Regions from separate parts of the Homo sapiens genome. Here all the other regions are linked to region 1. Evidence: fine-mapped expression QTL. A gene starts in region 1. Each other region holds a variant in brackets. All regions are shown on one strand. Distances are between the middles of the regions.

What was found.
Region 2: its variant is fine-mapped to the expression of PRKAR1B in whole blood (INTERVAL, PIP 0.96).
Region 3: its variant is fine-mapped to the expression of PRKAR1B in whole blood (INTERVAL, PIP above 0.99).

What each region holds. Positions count from the first base shown.
Region 1 is chr7:723,746-731,919 of GRCh38, reverse strand. It overlaps PRKAR1B (protein kinase cAMP-dependent type I regulatory subunit beta), which reads left to right and starts at 4,639. Exons shown (of 11, transcript NM_001164760.2): 1 at 4,639-4,710. It overlaps DNAAF5 (dynein axonemal assembly factor 5), which reads right to left and starts at 5,221. Exons shown (of 13, transcript NM_017802.4): 1 at 4,605-5,221; 2 at 2,073-2,257. The coding sequence starts at 5,199. RefSeq lists an enhancer at 555-1,054 and silencers at 4,359-4,438, 4,479-4,588, 4,649-4,698, 4,949-5,148.
Region 2 is chr7:661,779-669,952 of GRCh38, reverse strand. The region is part of intron 4 of PRKAR1B (protein kinase cAMP-dependent type I regulatory subunit beta); the gene reads left to right. Among named protein-coding and RNA genes, the nearest start is that of DNAAF5, 61 kb to the left of the region's middle. The variant G/A (reference allele first, on the strand shown) is at 4,528.
Region 3 is chr7:613,528-621,701 of GRCh38, reverse strand. All of the region lies in intron 4 of PRKAR1B (protein kinase cAMP-dependent type I regulatory subunit beta), which reads left to right. LOC105375119 (a long non-coding RNA gene) reads left to right here and starts at 7,128. Exons shown (of 2, transcript XR_007060176.1): 1 at 7,128-7,863; 2 at 8,131-8,174. RefSeq lists enhancers at 7,256-7,756, 7,757-8,174. The variant A/G (reference allele first, on the strand shown) is at 3,620.

The DNA of each region.
Region 1 (8,174 bases):
TGGAGGTGTCTGCAAGGAGCCCACATGGAGCTCCAGGACGGGGTCGCAGGGCTGATCAGAGTAAAAGGGGCAGCACCGTGACTCCACACGAAACTCACGTGAAGGGCCGTGCAGGGTCTCTAATAGGACGCAAACCCCATTGGGAAGAAACGGGCCATGCTGGAAGAATTGTCTTGGGCCACACATAAAATAACACTAACACTAATGATAGCTGACGAGCTAAAAGAAAAAAAAAAATCACAAAAACAATCTCGTAACATTTTAAGAAAGTTTATGAATTGGTGTTGGGCAGCATTCAAAGCCGTCCCGGGCTGCATGTGGCCCACGGGCCGCAGGTTGGACAAGCTTGCTTTAGATCAACAATGTGATGTCAGCTTTCTAACAGACAGCTATTGATACAGAGTAGGCTGCTTATACATAGCTACCAATACAGTTATAGCATTTATAGGCAGCTGTCGACACATAGTTATGGTATTTTTAGAGTTACGGTATAGTTATACTGAGTTACACCGTTTACAGCTAGCAATAGAGTTCCAGTATTTACAGAGCGTGCTCCACAGAGTTCCAGTATTTACAGACAGCTATCGATACAGTGATGGTATTTTTAGACAGTGACGGTATTTTTAGACAGTGATGGTTATTTTTAGACAGTGACAGTAGGCTTACACCGACAGCTATCAGCTATGGAGCTTCAGTATTCACACAGAGCTCTCCATACAGAGTCATCACACTGTTTTGAGGAGTAAGACTTGGCCCATGACACAGACTCCACTTTCCTTGTGGGCCATGCTCTGCCTCAGGCTTAAGGAAGGTGGGAGAGAAAAACCAGCCGGCCGCCTGCACTTCTTGCTGGGCTCTGTTCTTGCCCTGGCCCCTTGAACTGCCCTCCGCAGCCCAAATATTTAGCCAGTGCCAGAAGTGCCTGCTGCAAGTGCCGGGCAGCATGGACACTGACCCCGCACTCTGCCCACTTTCTCCCCACTGGGCAGAGCCTGATGTCCTCAGGGGCCCTCTGTGCTGCCTGGTGCCGAACCCACGCCAGCTCCAGGAGGGGCCGGCCAGCGTACATGGTGACTCAACTTCCGCTGGCCTGATGAGACCAAGGGGGGTGAACAAAGGCTCCTGGTGGGAAAGGGTCCCCCTGTGTCTCTGCGCACAGCCCCTAGGCAGCCACTCTGCTGCTGGAGGGAGAGAGCCGGAGAATGAAGCCTGGCCATGGAGGCAAAGCAGGGGTGTCCTGAGCAGGTGCTATGTCACACCTGGAGCCGGCCCTACGGGTGGACCCCAGCAGCACAGACGAGGGAGCGAGTCAGGGCTTCCATCCTGGCCCCAGAATACCCCGAGTGACTCTTCAACTCACCACCTTCAAGCCATTTCTCATCAGGAAACCTACCTCTTCAAGGCTGAAACCTGGAACCATGCACAGTGAAGAGGCCAGACACAAAAGATCACATGTCTGACTACGATGACAGGTAACTCAGAGACAGAAAGATCAGAGGTCACTCAGCTTCCCCGGTGGCCACAGTGTGTAGCATTTTAGCAAGTCACTGGGGCCTCAGATCCAAGACATGCCCTCCAGGCCAGATTCTGCCAGCAGTAAAGCCAACACTCAGCCCCATCTGTAGGACTCCTGCCTGCCTGCCTGCCCGTCTCTTGGTGGGTTCCAAAGCCCAACGACATAATTATCCCCAACAAACCAACCCCGACTCCACTCTTCTCCCAGTCCAGGTCCACCAACCATGGTGGCTTTTCGGGAAAGTGCGTCTTGATGGATGGGAGCACTAAGGAACCTTCTGCAACTGCTGAAGTGCACACTGTGCCTAAGAGACAATAACTACACAAGTCATCCTTTCTAACATCCTTGGAATTCATAACATCAAACATTAAAACAGTTCAGCTCTCTTCTAGTTTTTCCAAGATGTGAACAGGAACGTCCTGTGACTAGGAATAATGAAAGGACATTTGGTGCATACAGCACTCTGAAAAAAGAACAAGTGAGTTAGTTAAAAACAGCACGTCAGCCCGCCTGTGTTGGAGAGAGGAACAGACTGTCCAGGAGAAACACCAGTTACCTGCGGGACGTCATCAAACAGTCGCTGAGCAAAATGGGAAAGCACGTCGTCCACGGACTTCCCGTTGCCAAAATGGATCACTGCGCCTGTGGCTTCAATGGCGGCCACACGGACCTTCCAGTGCTGGTGGGAGATGGTCTGCATCAGGGGCCCGATCAGAGACTCCGACTGCATGTGGAAGTGGTCTGAGGGACAGGGAGGCCCCCAGTTACCAGAGCTGCTCCCACACGCCTCGCCCAGCTCTGTGGGCTTCCAGAGGACGGCTGCCTGCCTATGAGTTCCTCACCTCCCTTCCTCTCCTACGCCAGGTCCTTGCTGCATGAACAGTACACAATCCAGGCTGCCAAGGAGAGCTCTGTACCGCCCGGCACAGGAAGAGGCTCAGGGACAAGCGTCCCACCCTGATGACACCTGTGCAACCCAGAGGCTTAGGAGGACCAGCGGGGAAAGGCTGGGGGTGCAAACCCATTGTGGCTGAAGACCAGAGAGCCTGGACCTGCTGAAGCCAAGGTGGAGGCCTGACGGGGACACTGGCCAGAGGAAAGAAGCCGAGCCCAGAAGACAGAGGCGAGGCCACACTCCCAGCCCCACCTGAGACGAGACCCCAGGCTCCTCCAGGAAGCTGGGCCAGCACCACTCCAGGCAAAGCCACTGCACTTCCTATTTGTAAAGTCCCCGCAGAAAGTCAGAACAAGAGGTGGCAGGCGCCTGTAATCCCAGCTACTTGGGAGGCTGAGGCAGGAGAATCGCTTGAACTCAGGAGGCGGAGGTTGCAGTGAGCTGAGATCGCCCCACTGCACTCCAGCCTGGGAGACAGAGTGAAACCCTGTCTCAAAAAAAAAAAAAAAAAAAGTCAGAACCAAAGGGTCTCTGGCATCCAGGCCGCCTCTTGCCTCAGCTCTGCACTACTTGGGGCCCGTCTGGGAAACGGCTATTCCAGTGAGACTTTGGGTGAGCGCCTCAACCTCTCTGCCGTTGCCCAGTGTGACCGAGACCAGAGGTGAGGCCCCCCACCCAGGGGAGAGGAAGGCCAGAGGTGCTGGAGATGAGGGGATGCTCCAGGCAGAGGCACAGTCCCTCACCCCACAGCAACCAGTGAGCACATACCCCAGCAGGCTGCGCTTGGGGCTGGGGCACAGATGGGCACAGTGCTGTCCTGTGGAACCTACGGTCCAGGGAGGGAGCTCGTGGGGCTGATGTACAGACTGGGTAGGGAAGTGGTTGAGGATGAAGAAGAAATACATTAAATGCCAGGAATTCTCAATGGCCATGTCCATCCAGCCCAAGGTTCTTCCCCAAGCTCCACAGGAGTTCTGGACCATGTGAAATCCAAAGTTAACCAACGTGGAAATCTCGGCATTTCCCCAAGTCCAGCTCTTCCTCTACTTCTGGAATCTATTCTCCACGCAGCTGCAGTGATCTTTTAACAACCTGAACTCGGGTCTATCACTTCTATTGACACCCCCTGCACTTCCCACTACATTCAGACCATCACTGGGACATCACTGGGACGGCCTGAGCTGGCCAGATCCCTCACTGCTTTCCTGCTCCCTACCGCCCACGGATTTATAGCATCAGTGTTCCCTCCTTCGGAAAGCCTTCCCGCCAGCAGGAAGCAGGCGCCTGCTATCATTCCACATCCCAGCCAGGGGAGGGAAAGGGCAAGACCCTGCAGGAATGGCCAGCTAAGGAAAGGGAACGACCGGATCAGATCAGAGCTCTAAAAAAGATGGGGAACGTTATAAAGTGGAGGGGAGAAGCGGCCTCCTTCCACTTAGGACAGTGGTCCAAGCCAGAGCGGAAAGGCAGGGGAGTAGGATGAATGGGACAGAAAGTGAAATGACCAGAGCAGAGTCTCAAAGCGCGTGCCCTCAACCAGGTGCAAGTCCTGCAAGCCCCCGAGGGAAGGAAAGGGGGCAGCTATCAGGGCACACCCCACCCCAAACCGCCTAACAGGAATTTCTGCGGTGGTTTCCAGGTATCTGGACAGAAGCGCTGGCTCGTGGGCCCGGGTGGGGTGGAGGGGGCTCAGGCAGGGAGGAGGGTGGGAGGTGAGGGTCGCGGGAGGGCGGCGTGCAAGGAGGAGGATGGCACAGGATAGGCAGGTGGAGGGGGCACAGGGAGCAGGCAGGTGGGGGGCGGGGCTTGGGGCGTGGAGGGTGGAGGCGGGGAGCAAGGGGACAGGGGAGTGAGGTGAGTGAGGGCCAAGCAGGAACAGGGGTCACGGGGCAAGGAGCACGTGGCAGCGCAGGAAACAGGTACATGGGGGTAGAGGACAAGGGAGCAGCTGAAGGGCGCGTTGGTGGCGGGACGTGAGGCAGGGGAAGCAGTGGTGGTGGGAGGAGGGGGCCGGGCGGGGTGCTTTGGGGCAGGCGGGTGGGGGAAGCGGCGCATGGGGGGTCCGGGATGTTGGGGGGTGCGGGCGTGGAGGGGGGCGGGGCCGAGCCGCGGGGGTTGTGAGAGGGGCCGCGGAGGTGGAGGTGGGGGTGAGAGTGTGGGGTGGCGTGTGGGAGCGGGGCCCGGGGTGCTCACCGGGCGTGGCCTGCGCCAGGGCGGCGGCGCAGCTGCAGCTCTCGCGGCGCACGGCGGCGAAGGGGTCGAGCAGGGAGCAGCGCAGCGCGCGCAGAGCGTCGTCCAGGTGGGGCGCGAGCGCGGCGCCGCACAGGTCCACGGCCAGGCCCAGCAGCTGCACAAGCGCCAGGCGCAGCTCCTCACAGGCCTCGGGCGGGCGGCGCGCGGGCACGGGGCCGGCCAAGCGCGCGGCGAGCGCGGGCAGCAGGCGCGGCAGGGCATCGCGGGGCCGCGCGGCGCGGCGCAGGCCCAGATCCAGCAGGTGCACTGCCAGCGCGCGGCAGCCCTCGGCGGGGTCGCTCAGGCAGCGCAGCAAGCGCGGCAGCAGTAGGCGCGCCCAGGGGCCCTGGAAAGCGGTGGGGTCGGCGGCAGGGCCTGGCTCCTCCAGCGCGCGCCGCAGGGCCTCCAAGGCGCGCCGCCGGCCCGGCTTGCTGTCGGCCTCCAGCCCCGGCAGCAGGCGGCTCAGGGCGCGGCTCAGCTCCACCGCCTCAGCCGTCTCGGCCCCCTCAGCCGGGTGTGGGGCCGCCACGGCCTCCGCCACCCCCAGCGCCGCCATCTTGCCCGCGTCGCCGGTCACTAAGGGGAACAGCGCTTTCGCGACTCTCAGCGCAGATTACGGCAGCACTTCCGGTCCGCGCTGCGGGCGGGGCGCCGGGCTACTTCCTCCCCGCCGGTGCGCACGTGGGCCTGTGCTCTTGTCGTGCTCGCCCGCTGTCCCCCTCTGTCGCCGGAACCCCCGCCAGCCTGCCTGCTGGGCCTTGTCCTGTCCCCATTGTACAGATGGGGAAGGTCTCGGGAGGGTGCAGCTCGCCCGGGATGCGGGTCCCGGGCTATAGGCCTGGGCCTGCCCCTAGGGAAGCCTGCCCTGCAGCCTAGGGGGCTTGGAGAAGGAACCTGAGTGGTCCCGCCTGGGACCAGGGTAGCCGGGAAGCCCCTGTTTGAGCCGCCTAGAGCCCCTCTGGCTTTGGGAAGGTCCGTTCCAGGAGGGAAGGACGCTGGTTCTGTGGACTGGATCCCCCTGTGGTGTAAGACAGGTGCCTGGTCTGGGCTTCACGTGCAGCCTGTCATTAGATCTCAGGCGTAGCCGCCCAATAGGTTCGCCTTACTCGCTGCCCAGGTAGAGCCAATTTATCAAGACAGGGGAATTGCAATAGAGAGTTTAATGCATGCAGAAACTGGCTGCATGCAGAAACTGGCTGCATGCAGAAACTGGCTAAAGGACACTGGAGCTTTATTGCTCAAACCAGGTTCTGAAAATCCTGAGATGGGTCATCTAAGGATAATTAGGCAGGTAGGGGGCCAGGGAGAGGGCAGTGCTTATTGGTCGGGTTGGAGATGAAACCATGGAGAGTCAAAGTTGATTCTCTTGCTGTCTTCTGTTCCTGGGTGGGATCACAGAACTGGTTGAGCCAGATTAGTGGTGTGGGTGGTGGCACCTGGTGCATCAGAATGCAGAGCCTGAAAAATATCTTGAGCACCAATCTTAGAGTTGATGATAGTGGTGTTATCCTAAGGAGCAACTGGGGAGGTTTGGAATCTTGTGGCCTCTAGCTGCATGACTCAAACCACAATTTCTAATCTTGTGGCTCATGTGTTAGTCTTACAAAAGCATTCTGGTCCCCAGGCAAGAAGGAGGTTGGCTTCAGGAAAGGGCTGTTATCATCTTTGTTTCAAAGTTAAACTATAAACTAAGTTCCTCCTAAAGTTAGCTTGGCCTACTCCCAAGAAATAACAAGGCAGCTTGGAAATTAAAAGCAAGACAGTGTTTCACAGTAGTGACCTTGACTGTGGACTTGAGTGGAGACAGAGGCGCCTAAACAGCTTGGAGTCGGAGTTGCTGTGAGCCCAGCCTAGAACGCGAGTTTGACAGCACTCACTGCAAACCAGGAGTCCCCAAGTCTGGTTAGCCAGGCACTTCTCATCTGTGACCATGCACTGAGTTTTCTAAAGGCAGAATGTGTGTAATTTTAGGACAGAACTTCAAGTTTGACCTTCTTTTTTGTTGTTGATCTTCGTGTTGCAAAATGGTGGTGTTTGTCGGTACGTCTTTTTTTTTTTTTTTTGAGATGGAATCTTGCTCTGTCGCCCAGCCTGGAGTGCAGTGGCGCGATCTCCGCTCACTGCAGACTCTGCCTCCCAGGTTCATGCCATTCTCCTGCCTCAGCCTCCCAAGTAGCTGGGACTGCAGGTGCCCACGACCACGCCCAGCTAATTTTTTGTATTTTTAGTAGAGACGGGGTTTCACTGTGTTAGCCAGGATGGTCTCGATGTCCTGACCTCGTGATCCGCCCGCCTCAGCCTCCCAGAGTGCTGGGATTACAGGCGTGAGCCACCACGCCCGGCCCATCAGTACTTCTGAAAAGTTGTTATGTAGCATATTCAGTAACCTTCATTCATTGTTTCCTCCAACAGGCATTTGTTTGACCAGGCACTGTCTGCAACATGTGGGACAGGATGACAATGATGTAGAAACTGGCCATGGTCCCTGCTCTCCCAGATCTTAGGGTCTTGCAGGATGAGATAGCCCTTAATGGAAGGATAAATTAGTATGTGTTTAACCGTGGTGGTCCTGAGAGAATGAGTGTCAAGGGATGTTGAACTAGACTTTTAAGGCTTCCCTGAACAAATGGTAGCAGAGGTGAAATATGAAGAATAAGTAAACACAGTGTATTAGTCCATTTTCACGCTGCTAATAAAGACATGGCCGAGACTGGGTAACTTATACAGGGAAAGGTTTACTGGACTCACAGTTCCACATGGCTGGGGAGGCCTCACAATGATGGCCGAAGGCGGGAAGGAGCAAGTCACATCTTACATGATGGCAGCAGGCAAAGAGAAAATGAGAGAGCCTGTGCAGGGAAACTCCCCCTTATAAAACCGTCAGATCTCGTGAGACTTATTCACCATCATAGGAACAGCACAGGAAAGACCTGCCCCCATTATTCAGTTACCTCCCACTGGGTCCTTCCCACAACACGTGGGAATTGTGGGAGCTACAATTCAAGATGAGATTTGGGTGGGGACACAGCCAAACCATGTCACATAGCCAGGTGAAAGGGCGGAGGTGGGAGACGGGGAGTGTTGGAGAGAGAGGAAATAGCATGAGCAAAGGCCTCATGGGAGTGTTACGGGCTGAATGGCGTCTCCCCAAAATTCATATGCTGAAGTCCTAACCCCCATAGTTCAGGAAGTGATCCTGTTTGGAGACAAGGTCTTTGCAGACGTGATTGAGGTGAGATGAGGTCATGAGGTTGGGCACTCATCCAATATGACTGCTGTCCTCATAAAAGGAGAAATTTTGGAGATAGACGTGCATACAGGGAGAATGCAGTATGAGCATGAAGAGAGACCTCAAGAGGAGCCAGCCCGTACCCTGATCTTGAGAAATCAAATTTGTTTCATTCAGCTGCCCAGCCTGGTGTGCTTTGTTACGGCAGCCTCAGGTAGCAAACAGGGAGGGAGGCTGACCCTGGTCACAGGGGAGCAGGCAGGGAGTGAGCAGATGGGTGGGGCCAGGCCATGGGGGCCTCT
Region 2 (8,174 bases), 62 kb after region 1:
CGGAGCTTGCAGTGAGCTGAGATCGTGCCACTGCACTCCAGCCTGGGCGACAGAGCAAGACTCCGTCTCAAAAAAAAAAAAAAAATATGGCACGTGGACCTGCCCACCAGCCTTCTCTCTCGCTCTTGTTTTCATTGTGGCAAATATATATCACATAAAGTTTGCAATTTTAACCTTTTCTTTTTTTTTGAGATGGAGTCTCACTCTGTCACCCAGGCTGGAGTGCAGTGGCGCTATCTCGGCTCACTGCAACCTCCGTCTCCTGGGTTCAAGTGATTCTCCTGCCTCAGCCTCCCGAGTAGCTGAGATTACAGGTGTGCGCCACCACACCTGGCTAATTTTTGTATTTTTAGTAGAGATGGGGTTTCAGCATGTTGGCCAGGCTGGTCTTGAACTCCTGACCTCAGGTGATCCACCCACCTCAGCCTCCCAAAGTGCTGGGATTACAGGTGTGAGCCACTGCACCCAGCCCATTTTAGCCATTTTTAAGTGTTTAATTCAGTGGCATTAGTTACATTCACAATGGTGTGCTGCCATCACCACTCTTTGTTTCCAAAATTTTCATCATTCCAAATGGAAGCCCCACACTTATTCAGCAGTCAGTCCTATCACCCCCTCCTGGGCCCCTGATAGCCCCAATTTACTTTCTCTTTCTATGAGCTTGCCTATTCTAAATATTTCATGTAAGTCATTATGGGACTTAAATGAACCATGATATATGACCTTTCGTGATGGGCTCTTTCACTGAGCACAGTGTTTTCAAGGTGCATCCACAGCATAGCATGTATCAATGCTCTCTTCCTTTTTCAGGGCCGAGTAATATTCCACTCCACGGCCACACCCCATTTGTGTATCCATTTGTCTGCTGATGGACACTTGGGTTGTTTCCACCTTTTGGTTATTGTGATTAGTGCTGCTGTGAACATGGGTGTGCAGGTGTCTGTTTGAGTCTCCTGGGCAGATGCTGATGGATGGAATTGCCGGGTCATATGGTAGTTCCATGTTTAGCTTTTTGAGGAACCACAGATTGTGCTTCCCTTCCAGCCTGACCGAACTCAGAGCCTCCCATTCCTTTCTGTGCCCTCTTGGTGGCAACTGCGTTTCAGCTAAACTCCTCAAATCCTTTCTGGGCTCCTCCCCAGCTCCCAGGCTCTAGGTAGGTTCAGTAAAGCTCTTATTTTAGGGCCAGCCTGGACCCTGAGTGTGAGCTGAGTCAAATGATATCTCTGGGCCATCCCAGCTGTTTATGTCCAGTGCTGGGTCCTGTGCCCTTGGCCCTGAGAATCAGAACGACATGCGCCCTCCATCTCTGACCCCTCTGGATCCGAGAGCTACGCGGACAAGAAACAGAGGAAGCAGATGGTTGGCTTAAAAACTCCTCTTTGTAAGGCTGGCTTGAAAAGGAAGCTTTTGCACAGGGTGTGTGTGTCGGTTTCAGCTCTTTTGTTTTGCACACAGGAAAACTCACTTTCCATATCGAAGCCCCAGTGGGCTCCTTTTTCTGGCCACGGTCTCTAAAGAAACAGGCTGATGGCTCAGGAAACCGGTTCCAGAGGGAGTGGGCAGGGGAGGGATTGTCTCTGGACCTTTCACGTGATGTCTCCCCTGTGCAGCATCCAGATAGTTTGCTTTTTCCAGTTTACTAGAAGCTGAGCTTCATAGCTTTGCCTCTGCTCAGCTGTGGTTTGGCGAGCAAAGCCAAATTCCTTCCAAGTTTACAGGGCGTCTGGCACACCCCTGACTTTGAGGCTGCCTGCTCTTCTTCTCTCTGCTTCCCCGCTTAGGAAGAGTGCGGCAGAGAATCCTTTGCAGATGCATCCACCTGCAGGGTTTGCACACCTGCTGGCCTAATGACCCCTCCGTACAAGTTCAGGTTCAAGACAGATATCCCCATCATCACAGGCTGTGTGACTTTGCTCTTGTCGATCCGTAACAGTGTGGGAGATACATAAGGTTGTGCGAGAGATACGTAAGCTTGGAGAAGGGTAGAAATTATGTTTAAGACCTTTGATTTAAAGGAAGATAGTGCAACGTGGTTGTGAGGGAGGCTGCAACTCCCCCAGACCGCCTGCCTGTCCTTCTAGGATGGTGGTATTGCTAGTTGGCCTTGATCGAAGGGTTTCCCTGGGCCTTTGCACAGGATCTGTGAGAGGCATAGTGTCAACCTCACAGCCTCAGTTTCCTTCCCTGTCCTTGTCCAAGGCCCCACAACTCCTCAGGAGCAGAGCTAGGGTTTGAGCTCGAGTTCTTGGGCACCTAAGCCTGTGCTCCCTCCCCTGTAAGGACACATCACCTGCACCTGCCGCTACCCTGCCTGCATGGTGAAGGAAGATTGAGAATGGGTGATTTAGGCATTGCCAGTGAGCGGGGTCCATACTGTCCTGTAGTGAACTGCAGCTGCAGGGAGACAGCTCAGGGGTGAGACAGGACCAGGAGTTCCCATCACACAGGTGTTGGGCTGGAGTGGTCTTATTCCCAGGCACGCCTATGCACACAGTCATGCACACACAATCTCACTCAGATACCACAGAATTTAAGGTGTGTTTAAAACATCTTTTGGAAGGAGAGAGTTGTGGATGTCATTTATAAGTAATAACATTCTCTGAGCCTCAGTTTCCTCAGGTGTCAAATGAAGATAATAAAACCTACTTTGAGGTTGTTGTGAGAATATAAAGCAAGAATATCTATGTGTGTACTGTTATCACCACCATCATTATCATCACCATCATAGTCATCACCATTACCATCATCACCATCCCCACCATCACCATCATCACTGTCATCATCACCATCATTATCATCACCATCACCACCACCATCCTCATCACCACCATTGCCATCATCATCGTTATCACCACCATCATCATCACCATCCCCACCATCACCATCATCACTGTCATCATCACCATCATTATCATCATCACCATCACCACCACCATCCTCATCACCACCATTGCCATCATCATCTTTATCATCACCATCATCATCATCACCGCCATCATCATCACTGTTGTGGTCATTGTCATCACCATCTTTCTGTGGCCCTTTGGCTGTGTGGCAGTGGAGTCCATGAAGGTACTTCTTCTGGATGGTGCCTTGCCCCTTGGAGGCTGGCCCGGCTATCCAGACAGACCCCGCAGTCAGGCCCCACTCAGTACTTGGTCTGAGAAAGAGGCTGGGGTAGCCTTGAGTCATTCTCTGCTCCACCCTGGGCCTGAGTTGGTGAATAGGCCGCTCCGGGCCTCCCAGCACCCACAGTCAGCAGGAAGATCCCTAGGAGGCCACCTTGTCCCCACCTCACTGTACTGAACAGAGCTCTGAGACCCAGTGAGAGGGGGCCTTGGCCTGTTGCACTGACCCACACAGCAATTGTCCAGCTGGGGCTGGAGTGGGGTGTCCTTATCCCCTGGGACGGCACCTGCACAGCCCCTCTGCAGAGTTGAGTAGCTCCCAGGGCAGGCCCCAGGGTGGTGGTAGGTGCAGCCTTCTCACCTTGTGTCAGCTATTGGAGCGAAGCAGATTCCGCATCCTACCTGGGGTGCCCGGGGCAGTTACGCCTCGGCCAGGGACCTCAGCAGCCTCAGGAAGCAGCCCCGCGTGCTCCGGAGCTCTCTGATGTGCCAGGACCATGAAGGCTGTCCCTGGAGCGTGTGTCCCAGGGAAGCAGCCCCGCATGTTCCGGAGCTCTCTGATGTGCCAGGACCATGAAGGCTGTCCCTGGAGCGTGTGTCCCAGGCCTTGGGGAGTGAGGTGGAGGCCCTTGGGTTCTATCCCGGTCCCTTCCCGGCTTTCCCTGATTAGGGCGCCTGTAGGGGGAGCATCGCTGAGCTCCTGGGAGCCGAGAAACGTGATAATTGGGTGGCACCGTGCGTGTTTGTGTTGTGCGTTGGGCCTCCGGCGGGGACCTCATTACTGGAGCTGCCAGACGGGCACAGGCGAGGGCACCTCACCCTTGAGGCGGCCTTCCTGGCAGTGGCTCCAGCTCTCTGCTGCTTTAATTAAAACAGGCCTCTGGCTTGAGCAGCACCGCTGGCCTGCGCAGCTGTCTGTTATCTGTCGCTGTTTCTCTTCCTCCCACCCGCGTATCTCTGCAGTCTGTTTTTCCACAAACTGGCTCGGATCCTCAGGTGATGGGAAAAACAAGCCCTTCTGCCGAATTCACGGGCAGCTGAAGGGAGCTGTCTCCTGGCTTCTCTGAGCCTTCACGGCCCCCTCTCCCCATTCTGGCTTGGGCTTTGGGACTTTCTGCTTCCCTTTCGGGCAACATTAAAAAAACAAAATTAGCATTTTGGAAAATGCAGGGCCTCATCCGAGGAGATGCTTAATGGCTTGAACATGCAAAGAATTTGATTTCCATTTGCAGAAAGCCCAGCTGGATCTCAGCAGAGGAGACCTTGAGGTTAGCAAATCAGGGGCCACGTGAGCCCGGGAGGCTTTAGAAGCTGAATTCAACGGAGGCTGAAGCCTGGGGTTTGAAGCTTGCATCAGATGATGTATGCAATGGCCAGTCCCTGGGCCATGGGCCTC[G/A]GGCATGTTGTCTTTCTAGAGCTCCCCCGTGGCCCCCGAGGCTGCCGTTTGGCAGGGGAGGCAGAGAGAGGTTAAGCAGGCTGCGTCGGGCCACCCAGCTTGGAGTAGAAGCTGGGACTTTGACCTGGCTGGGATGTGGCTGCTTGGGGCTGACTTGCCCACCGTGAATGCACACACAGCTCATTAACCTGCCGGGAAAAGACAACAACCTTTTTAAGAGAACAGTCATTTTCCACACGCCTAGCGTTTTCCAGCTAATAACAAGTCTCGTGGCCTGCGCCTGGAGCTGCGGGGCAGTTGCAGCTCTCCGTGGAGCCTGTTTCAAAGGGTCTCCAGGGCTGGCGCTATCTAATACCACAGTGACAACAAGCCCTCTTGCTTTGTCTGATTTGTGAGTGGAGAGAAGAACCTCAGGTCTTTCTTACCACTTCCCCCAGGTGATCGTGGCCTGCGTGGATCTTGCCTGTGGTCCTGGCTGTTTGGTGCCCTGAGATTTTTGTTTTTGTTTTTTTGAGACACAGTCTTGCTCCGTTGCTCAGGCTGGAGTGTAGTGGCACGATCTTGGCTCACTGCAGCCTCGACTTCCTGGGCTCAAGTGATCCTCCTGCCTCAGCCTCCCGACTAGCTGGGGCCACAGGCGTGCACCACCACACCCAGCTATTTTTTTTTTTTAGTTTTTGTAGAGACAGAGTCTCGCTGTGTTGCCCAGGCTGGACTTGAGCCTCCTGGGCTCAAGCGATCCTCTGGCCTCAGCCTCCCATAGTGTTGGGATTGCAGGCATGAGCCACCACACCCAGCAGCTGCTGTAACATTTTGAAACTTGTGGAATTTGGTGGTGTGTGGTCTCCGGTACCACATCTTCTGACCCCTAGCCAGTTCACGTTTTGTTGTCACTGACAAGCCCCTGCAGACCTGGGGGCTGAGATGCTGCACGTGGCCTCTGCCTCCAGCACCCAGTATGTGGATGGGGACCCGAGGCCCAGAGAAGGTGCAGGAAGGCCCACTGCCCCGGGCAGGGAATGGGGCTGTCCTTCAGATGGAGGGTGCCAGGGCAGAGGCTGTGTTCATGCAGGCCTGAGGCTAAGCCCTGGTGCAGCACTGGCCACTGTGCTGTGTCGGGGACCACATAGCGACCAGAAGGAGGGATGCACCAGCTTTCACATTCCGACGGACGCCATGGGTCCTGGCATGGCTCCATTCTTGAGCCCTGGTCACTAAAAATAGCCCCGTCGCCTGCCAGCGGGTGTGAGGAATTCACCAGCTGGCTGGGGATGGGGGTCTGTGGAGAGAGGCCAGGCGAAGGGAAGGTTGCGTGGGGAGGGCCCTCCATGGAGGGGAATGTAACCGTCGAGCTGGTCCTGGCCCTATGGGGCTCCTTGTAATACAAAGCATCTTGTCAGCAATTTGGTGACCCTGTTCCCACTTGTCGGGGGGGACCCTGAGGCTCAGAGACAGCGGGGGGCTTGCCCAGGTCACACGGTTTCCGTGGGAAAGATCAGCCCTCCTGAGACCAGGCCCTGCACGCCCACCTGTCTGCTCCCTGCAGAATGAGGAAGCCACTCCGATTCGGGAGGCAGTTGTAACTCACGCTCCCTGAGTTCTGCTTGGGGTCAGGTGTGTGGCTGAGAGCTGTGAGTGTGCTGTCTCGCTGTCCTGATGGCAGCCCTGAGGGCACGTGGTAACACTGTCCCCAAGTTCCAGGTGAGGATCTGACACACGGAGAGCTGTGGCCACCTGCTTCGGGCCACCGCTGCTGCCCAGACCACCACATGCACCCTGGTTTGACCACGGTCTGTGTAGGGCCAGGACCCTGGGACACAGCCGTCCCCTCCCCTCCTGACCGAGAGCCTTTTCTTTTCTAGTAGGGACCAGTATTTTAAAAGTGAATGGGCCGGGCACGGTGGCTCACGCCTGTAATCCCAGCACTTTGGGAGGCTGAGGCAGGGGGATTGCTTGAGCCCAGGAGTTTGAGACCAGCCTGGGCAGCATAGCAAGACCCCATCTCTACCCTCCTCCTAAAAATTAAAAAATTAGCTGGGCATGGTGGCATGCACCTGTAGTTGCAGCTACTCAGGAAGCTGAGGTGGGAGGATTGCTTGAGGCTGGGAGGTTGAAGCTACGGTGAGCTGTGATTGCACCACTCCTCTCTCCAGCCTGGGTGACAGGGCAAGACCCTGTCTCAAAAAGAAAAATAAGTAAAAATAAACACACATCAATAAAAAGTGGATTATTGTCTGGTTGTCTCATGGGTGTGATAGTTGCTGCTGGACCACTGAGGAAGTGACTGATTCTTCCCGCGGGTGGGCCCTTGTTCATCAGACCTAGTGAAACTTCAGCCACATCCACAAGGGATTTTCCAGGCAAAGAAGAGGGGGGACTAAGTTCCTGAGTGTCTTGGGGCCTCTTTCAGGACTCTGTCCTGTCTGTTCATTGAACACTCTTAGATCTTTTCTGGGTTTCAGTCTGTTTGAAAGCATCAGAAAATGTTAGGAAGGAAGAGGGTGATGAACAGGGTGGTGCTTCTGGAAGGCCCCTGCTGTGGCCGCTCCGAGGGTGAGAGCCTGGGCCCCAGGTGGTGGGGGGAGCTTTGGAGGCTGGGGCCCAGGACTCAGCATTGCTTGGAGGGTGTCCCAGGAGACTTGCTCAGACTCTGCTGTGGGTGCCCGTGGGACTGGAGGGGAGCTCAGGCATGGGGAGAGTAGGTATTTGGATCTGTTGGGGTGGGGACCTGTGCCACTGAGGGGAGAGTAGGTATTTGGATCTGTTGGAGTGGGGACCTGTGGCATGGCGGGGAGAGTAGGTGTTTGGATCTGTTGGGGTGGGGACTTGTGCTATGGGGGGGAGAGTAGGTAATTGCATCTGTTGGGGTGGGGACCTGTGCCACTGGGTGGAGAGTAGGTATTTGGATCTGTTGGGGTGGGGACCTGTGGCATGGGGGGGAGAGTAGGTATTTGGACCCGTTGGGGTGGGGAACTTGTGGCACTGGGGGGAGAGTAGGTATTTGGACCCGTTGGGATGGGGACCTGTGCCATGGAGGGAAGAGTAGGTATTTGGACCCGTTGGGGTGGGGACCTGTGCCATGGGGGGGAGAGTAGGTATTTGGACCTGTTGGAGTAGGGACCTGTGCCTTGCGGGGGAGAGTAGGTATTTGGACCCGTTGGGGTGGGGGACCTGTGCCATGTGGGGGAGAGTAGGTATTTGGACCCGTTGGGGTGGGGACCTGTGCCATGGGGGGGAGAGTAGGTATTTGGATCTGTTGGGGTGTGGACCTGTGCCATGGAGGGAAAGAGTAAGTATTTGGACCCACTGGGGTGGGGACCTGTGCCATGGGGGGGAGAGTAGGTATTTGGACCCGTTGGGGTGGGGACCTGTGCCATGGGGGGGAGAGTAGGTATTTGGATCCGTTGGGGTGGGGACCTGTGCCATGTGGGGGAGAGTAGGTATTTGGACCCGTTGGGGTGGGGACCTGTGCCATGGAGGGGAAGAGTAGGTATTTGGACCCGTTGGGGTGGGGACCTGTGCCATGGGGGGGAGAGTAGGTATTTGGACCTGTTGGAGTAGGGACCTGTGCCTTGCGGGGGAGAGTAGGTATTTGGACCCGTTGGGGTGGGGACCTGTGCCATGGGGGGGAGAGTAGGTATTTGGAC
Region 3 (8,174 bases), 110 kb after region 1:
ATGGCCAGGAAGCATCTGTCATGGGGATGACCCCACCTGCTGTGACATCACCCCACACAAGCATCTGTCACCACTGCTCAATAGTGAGCCCCTTAGGGAAGGGTTGCAAACTCGGGATCCTGGGGGTTCAGGAATTAAGTGGAAAACGTGGAGTCCTTGGGAATTGTGGCAGATTGGAGATGGTCATGCTCCTTCCAAAGTGGGGGTGAGCTGAATTCTTGCTTTGGGAGTACAAGGTCCCTGTGTTGTCAGACTTTTCTTTTTATTTTCTTTTTTCAAAGGAAAGCCAACAATTTGGATTTTATGAATTTTGTAAATTTTTAAATATTGGGAGATGATTTTGAAAATACCATCAACATTGGCACATGAATAAATAGAAAACCTGAAGAGATCTAGAAGCATTAAGTAAGTTGAAATGGTAACCAAAGACCTTTCCTCCCAAAGGGTTCTTTCTGATGGTTTCACTGGTTGAGTTCTTTCAAACATCAGCAAACTGTCTATTCTTACTTCTCAAATTGCTACAGAAAATAGAAAACAAGAGGAAGCTGCTAGATCATTGTATGTACTGTACTGTGATCAGGTGGAGATGATCCAGAATTCAAGGATGGTTCAACCTCAGAATACTCTATCCATGTAAATCACCATATTAGTAGATTGTAGAGAAAGAGCATGTGACATGTCACATAGGTGTTGGAAAAGGTTTTGACAAAGCTCAACAACTATTGCATAAATTCTTAGCAAACTAAGAATAGGGTCACTTCTTAACTTGGTAAAGGTCATACATACCCAACACAGAGCAAACATGCTAATGGAGAATCTTTGGCTACATGCTCTTTAAGGGAGGGACCACAATGAGGCTCTGATGGCTTTCATGGTTTAACTGTGCTTGGGAGGTCCCGGCAATGCTATAAAGAAAGAAAAATAAGAGGAGTCCTAATTGGAAGGGTAGAGAGAAGATGAATTTGATCATGTCTATGGAAACCAGCATAGAATACACAGAACAACTCTTACATTCTTATGAGTGTTCAGCAGGGTTGGTGCAAGCTCAACTTACAAAAATCATCATTAAGAAGCCCAAGGAATCCATAAATAAATATACACAATTTTTCTTTGTCAATTTAAAGAAAATTTAAAAATACGGATTCCTTCCCATCACAATGAAGATATTAAATCTGTCTCAACAGAAAGAAAGAGAGAAAAAAAAGAGCCCAAGGGGCTGGGTGGGTGCAGGGAATGAGAAAAGAGACACAGATGAGGAGTAACTGGAGAATAGAATTTGAAAGGATGCCATTCATGAGGGCAACAGCCACTGAGAAGTGGAATGTGCTTGACAACAGATTACAGAAGACTCTAGGGAGGAAGTTTTAAACCTCTATAAGGACATAAAACACGATCTGAATAGGGAGAGGCGGTCTGTATTCTTGGGTGGAATGACTCAACGTGATGATGTCATTTCTCCCTCACATTAATCTCTACCTTCAAAGCAGCTCCACTTCAAATTGCAGCTGGAATATTGTGAGGCAGTAAACACATTCGGAAATGTGAATGAGCTGGGTGCGGTGGCTTATGCCTGTAATCCCAGCACTTTGGGAGGCTGAGGTGGGAGGATTGTTTGAGCCCAGGAGTTTGAGACCAGCCTGGGCAACACAGAGAAACCCCATCTCTAAAAAAAAAAAAAAAAAAAGTAGCTGGGTATGATGGCATGTGCCTGTAGGCCCAGCTACTCAGGAGGCTGAGGCAGGAGGATCACTTGAGCCCAGGAGTTCGAGGCTACAGTGAGCTATGATCGCACCACTGCACTCTAGCCTGGGTGACAGAGTGAGACCTTGTCTCTAAAAAACAAACAACAAAACAAAAAACAAAACAACAGAAAGAAAAAGGAAAGGAAAGAATAAAAATTTGCAAATAACTAAGTCATCTTTGAAACAGAAGCACAAAGAAGAGGGACTTCTCCTACCAAGAGCTGAGGCTCAGCAGGAGGCCTTGATCATAAATGGAGCCAGGTGCCCTGCAGGAAGGGACGGCAGAACAATGGCGTGGGGCCGAGAGCTGAGAGGAGGTGCAGGCACACATGGGAGCTCCATATTTAATAGATGCAAGAGGTAGTTTAGTGCAGTGGTTAAGACAAGGACTCTGGAGCCAGATCACCCGGTTTTGAATCCCAGCACCACCATTCCTTAGCTGTGTGACCTTGGGCAGGTTCCTTAACCTCTCTGTGCTTCTGTCCTGCTCCCACTTGTATGTGAGGATAAGGGGAGTGATGATCATATATGCCACAAGGTTGTTGTGAGAATTAAATGAGCAACTGTGCGTAAAACACTGTGTTAGTTTCTAGGGCTGCCATAACAGAAGGACAAACTTGGCCTTAACAACAGTGATCAAGCGTCTCATGCTTCTGGAGGCCAGAAGTCCAAGCTCAAGATGTGGGCAGGGCTGGTTCCCCCTGAGGGCTGTGTGTGGGGATCTGGCCTGGCCTCTCCTTGGCTTGTAGGTGCCGTGTTGCCTCCCTGCTGTGCTTTCGTCCGACTCTTCGCTCTGCGTGGACACTGTGTTTTCCCTGTGTGTGTCCAAGTCTCCTCTTTTTATAAGGACACCAATCATATTGAGTTAGGGCCAACCCTACTCCAGTAGGACCTCACTTTTTTCAAGACAGGGTCTTGCTGCCAGTCTGTGGTGCTCTGTGATGGCAGCCCAGGCAGACATGTCGGAGAGTATTTCATTACTTGGTTGTGGGGAAACACTTTCTTAAACAAAACCCACAAAGCACAAACCATAAAGCAAAAAAGAGGTTACATCAGATGAAAGATGTCTACCTAATTAAGGACATCATGAAAAAGTTAACAGGTGACTGCGTGTAAGAAGATAGTTGCAATATCTAAACCCGACAAGCAACCGGTATCTAAAACACACAAGGAATTTCTGCAAATCAGCAGGAAAGAAGGTACCAACCCTTCTATCAAGATGGGCACAGGATATGAACAGGAAGTTTACAGAAGAGGAAACACAACCAGAGGAGAAGCCCTTGAAGAGCAGCTCAGAGCTTAGAGATCAGGGAAATGGAAATGCAAACAAAACGGCAGTTCAAAGCCGCAGCCCCAACGTGTCAGGCAATGTGGTGACGTGGGTAGATCTAGAGTATGTGGACTCCTTGAAGAAAAAGAAGAAACAGCATGAAATCTGCAGCAGGATACCATTTTTTGGTTAAATGCACATAGCTTAAGATTCTATGTTTTAAGAGAAAACATACAAACGAGAGGGGAGACCTCAAGTATCTTATAGCAATTGCCCACAGACCGAGAGGGCTATGGGAAGAGAGGAATAAATGTATAGGCAAAACAAGAACAGATCACAGAGCGGCATGAACTGAGTGCTCCATATTTACATCTGGGGTTTAAAGAAAAGATGTTGGAATAGGATGTCCCACGAAACACAGGTGTTGCCAAATGCATGGTCTGTGGGCCTGTCGGGAACGGCGGGGTTTGCTGCCCTGTGGCCCCAGCAGGACCCAGTCTGAGTGCTGTGGCTGCCTGTGAGCTGAGTGCAGGGATATGGGTGTGCGGGCTGTGTTCCTGGACCTTGCCCTGCCTCCACCTCTCCCACCCTCACTCCGGCACTTACC[A/G]CTGGTGGGGAGGAGCCTGCACTGGTCCTGGGTTTGGTGGGGGCGGTGAGGGGGTCCCAGGCGGAGGGTGGGGGAAAGTGGGTGGGGCCTCTGCTTCCCTGGAGGCCTCCAGGCTTGGGGAAAGTGAACACAGCTCAAGAGTCTGTGTTTTAAGAGAAACTGGAGGTGTCTGTGCAGGGGCGGGGTGTCTAGGCTTTCCCATACAGCCCTTTGCCCGGATAGAGGCTGCGAGTTCCAGCTGGGTGAGTGCTACGCGGGGCCCAGGAGGGGTTTGCTTTCCGTCCGACCTGCCACGTCCTGGGCTCTGCTCCGGGAGGGGCCTAGTGCCTGCTGCCACCCCTTGGGTTCACAGGCCCAGGCTCTGCCTCCTGCCAGGACGGGGGAAACAGATGGAAAGCTGGGGCCGGGAGAGTATCTGGAATGGACCAGGGTGACAGTCGGTGACAAGGACCCATCACCCAGTGTGACTGTTCTTAACCTACAGGGCTGGGTGGGACTTGACCAGCTGGCCTGATGTTAGTGTGGGTCTGAGCAAGTGACTAAGCAATAGGTTGTGCCCAACACATGCATTTGCACACCAAAAATTAGCTTGCTTTTAAAATGGCACTTCGTTAGTTGGGGGTGGTGGTTCGGGCTGGTGGTCCCATCTGCTTGGGAGGCTAAGGCAGGAGGATCGCTTGAGCTCAGAAGGTCAAGGCTGAAGTGAGCTGTGATGCTACCACTGCACTCCAGCCTGGGTGGCAGAGTGAGACTCGGTCTCTTTAAAAAAAAAAAAAAAAAAAAGGCACTTGGTCCTGCGTGGTGCCTCACACCTGTAATCCCAGCACTTTGGGAGGCCAAGGCAGGTGGATCATGAGGTCAGGAGTTCGAGACCAGCCTGGCCAACATGGTGAAACCCCTGTCTCTACTGAAAACACAAAAATTAGCTGGGCATGGCAGTGTGTGCTTGTAATCCCAGCTACTCGGGAGGCTGAGGCAGGAGAATTGCTTGAACCTGGGAGGTGGAGGTTGCAGTGAGCTGGGATCGTGCCATTATACTCCAGCCTGGTCGACAGGGCGAGACTCTGTCTCAAAAAAAAAAAAAAAAAAAAGCACTTGGGTGTTGGGGTTTAGATTTTAAAATAAACAAGAAAACCCCAAACTTTCCTTGTTGTTTAAATTACCCGGGATGAGCACTTGGCTGTTTTGATTGGATGGAGAATAAAGGGCCCGAGGCGCTTCACCCCATTTGTACTTTTTTTCCCAAAAATACATGAGGTTGGGATTCATGGATGGCTTTTGGCTTCAAGGGTCAGATCTTGTCCTGAATGTGTCTTTGAAAACATCGATGCCGCGGGCATGACTGGGAACCACACCTTAGAGCTGGGTGTGGAGGGAAAAGGCTGGGCTGTGAAGTTGTAGCCGTCAGCAGGGAGGGAGGCCGACGGACCCTCAGCCAAAGCGGTGCGTGGCACTGGGGTCTGGTGGCCGGTGAGGAGCCGCTGTGCGATGGCTGCCACAGCAGAACTGGGTGGAGCGTGCTTCTGGGACCACAGCCTGAGGAAGCCAGGCCTGCCTAGCTTGGATGAGCCCCGCCGGCTGGCAGGACGCAGCTCCGGAGAGACCCTGGGCTCCATCACTGTTTCCCAGCTGGTCCCCTGGTCCCCCGGATCAGTGAGGACAAAGTGAGCCAGGCAGGCCTGGTGGGCACAGGTGGTGGCTGCGTTTGGCCAGAGGTGGAAGCGTGACTCTGGGCAGGTGGAGGGGGAAGGAAGGTCCCCCATCTGCGGTGGTCTGTGGTTGATGGAGATCTCTGACCTCTCCAGGCCCTGCGAGTCTGTCCGGAGTGACCTCGTTTTGTCAGTGAGAGCCAGGGGGCTGCCTCCAGCACAGGGGGCCAGGACCTGGGGCGAGGACCCACTACACCAGACAGGGCCTGTACCTGCAGCCAAGAGGGGCTGAGACCCACCCAGTGTGTTCTGCGTGTGCACCCGCGGGCAGGGCTGGGCCTGGGAGGGTCTCGGCAGTGGTGAGAGCACAGCCCCTGCCTGGGCTCAGCCTCAGCCTCAGCTGCTTTCTCTCTCTCTCTCTCTCTTTCTTCCTTTTTCTTTCTCTCTCCCTCTTTCTCTCTTTCTGTTTCTTTTTTTATTTTTCTTTCTTTCTCTGCCTCTTTCTTCCTTTTTTTCTCTCTTTCTCTCTTCCTTTTTTCTCTTTCTCTCTCCCTTTCCCTCCCTCCCTTTCTTCCTTCCTTTCTTGCTTTCTTTTTTTTTTTTTTTTTGATGGAGTCTTGCTCTGTAGCCCAGGCTGGAGTGCAGTGGCGCGATCTCGGCTCACTGCAAGCTCTGCCTCCCGGGTTCATGCCATTCTCCTGCCTCAGCCTCCCGAGTAGCTGGGACTACAGGCGCCTGCCACCACGCCCGGCTAATTTTTTTTTGTATTTTTAGTAGAGATGGGGTTTCATAATGGTCTCGATCTCCTGACCTCGTGATCCGCCCACCTCGGCCTCCCAAAGTGCTGGGATTACAGGCATGAGCCACCGCACCCGGCCTTCTTTCTTTCCTTCTTTCTCTCTCTCTTTCTTTCCTTTCTTCCTTTTTTCCTTTCCTTTCCTTTCTTTTCTCTTCTTTCTTTCCTTCTTTCTGTCTTTTTTATTTTTTATTTTTATTTATTTATCTTTTTGAGACGGAGTCTCGCTCTGTCTCCCAGGCTGGCGTGCAGTGGCGCGATCTCCGCTCACTGCAAGCTCCGCTTCCCGGGTTCCAGCAATCCTCCTGCCTCAGCCTCCCGGGTAGCTGGGATTACAGGCGCCCATCACCATGCCCAGCCAATTTTTTGTATTTTTAGTAGAGACGGGGTTTCACCATGTTAGCCAGGATGGTCTCGATCTTCCGACCTTGTGATCCGCCTGCCTTGGGCTTCCAAAGTGCTGGGATTACAAGTGTGAGCCACTGCACCTGGCCTTCTTTCTCTCTTTCTTTGTCTCACTCTTTCTTTCTGCCTCTCTCTCTCTCCTTCTTTCTGTTTTTAGAGACAGGGTCTTGCTCTGTCACCCAGGCTGGAGTGCAGTGGCACAATCTCAGCTCCCTGCAGCCTCAACCTCCTGGGCTCAAGCAATCCTCCTGCCTCAGCCTCCCGAGTAGCTGGGACCACAGGTGCATGCTACCATGCCCAGCTGAATTTTTTACCTTTTTTGAGACAAAGTCTTGCTCTGTCACCCAGGTTGGAGTGCAGTGGTGCGATCTCAGCTCATGGTAACCTCCGCCTCCCAGGTTCAAGCAATTCTCCTGCCTCAGCCTCCCAAGTAGCTGGGATTACAGGTGTGTGCCACTACACCTCACTAATTTTTGTATTTTCAGTAGAGACAGGGTTTCACCATGTTGGTCAGGCTGGTCTCGAACTCCTGACCTCAGGTGATCTGCCTGCTTCGGCCTCCCAAAGTGCTGGGATTATAGGCCGTGAGCCACTGTGCCTGGCCACGCCCAGCCAATTTTTTTACTTTTTATAGAAATGGGGTCTTGTTATGCTGCCCAAGCTGGTCTCAAACTCCTGGGCCCAGCGATCCTTTCACCTCCTTATGGTGCCCGGTCTCCCAAAGTGCTGGGATGACAGGCATGAGCCACCCACCACATCTGGCCCATGTCAGCTTCCTAAGCCTCAGCTTCCTTGTCTGTGAAGTGGGGCAGTAATGGGGCCTGTGGCGGTGAAGTTCAGAGGAGGGGATGTAAACGGGGCGTTCTCTCAGGTGAAAGGCATTCAACCCAGCCTTTTGTCAGAAGACCTGGGTCTTAGCCGTGTTCCACCATCTTGGAGCTGATGAGGCAGGTTGAATCTGTCATTCTGCGCATCCTGTCGTATATGCTGCTGAGTGTTTTGTGTAGACAGTCCTGAGTGGCTGAGGTTGGGCAGATGTAGCCAGACTATGGACAGAGGCTTCCTGTGAGTCCGAAGAAGTGCCCAGCCCTGCGTTGGCCTGTCCTGGTCGGGCGTGCGGGGCGTGGAGTCTGCAGGCGTCTGTCATCTGGGCCTGGCTCCCCTCCCCTCTGTGGGCGCCACGCCTCCCGCCCTCCATGCTGACCTGAACCTCACAGTCCGGTTCCCTGGGTGGTGGACGAGTCCTTGGGTGTCTCCCACCCGCTTGGTGGCAGCCCTGCTTGCCCCTGCGGGGACCTCCCAGCACTGCACCCTCTTGGCTCCGCAGGCTTCCCTGTCCTGGGGCCGGGAGAGGTCTCTGCAGGCTGGGGAGGGGTTTCTGGAAACATTCTCAGGTGAGCTTTCCCGTGCAAGTCCCAACCTGCGCTTGTCTTGGCTCGGGAGGCCCGGAGCGGCGGGAGGAGGAAGGAAGTGGCATTTCTAGGAGCTGATGGTGTTTTCCAGGTGGGCCTGGTCGTGGCTTTTTCACCCTCGGTGTACCGTGTTGGTCGGTGGGCCCTCGTAGTGGGAGCTGGACCTGTCTCTGCAGGTATTGGAGCAGATTCACAGTGCGGAACGATGGGCTGAGTTACTCACGTTCAACCCCGCGTGTGTGATTTCAGGGGCTGAGCTTGGCGCGCCATCTCCTTGCCTTTTGAAGGCGAGT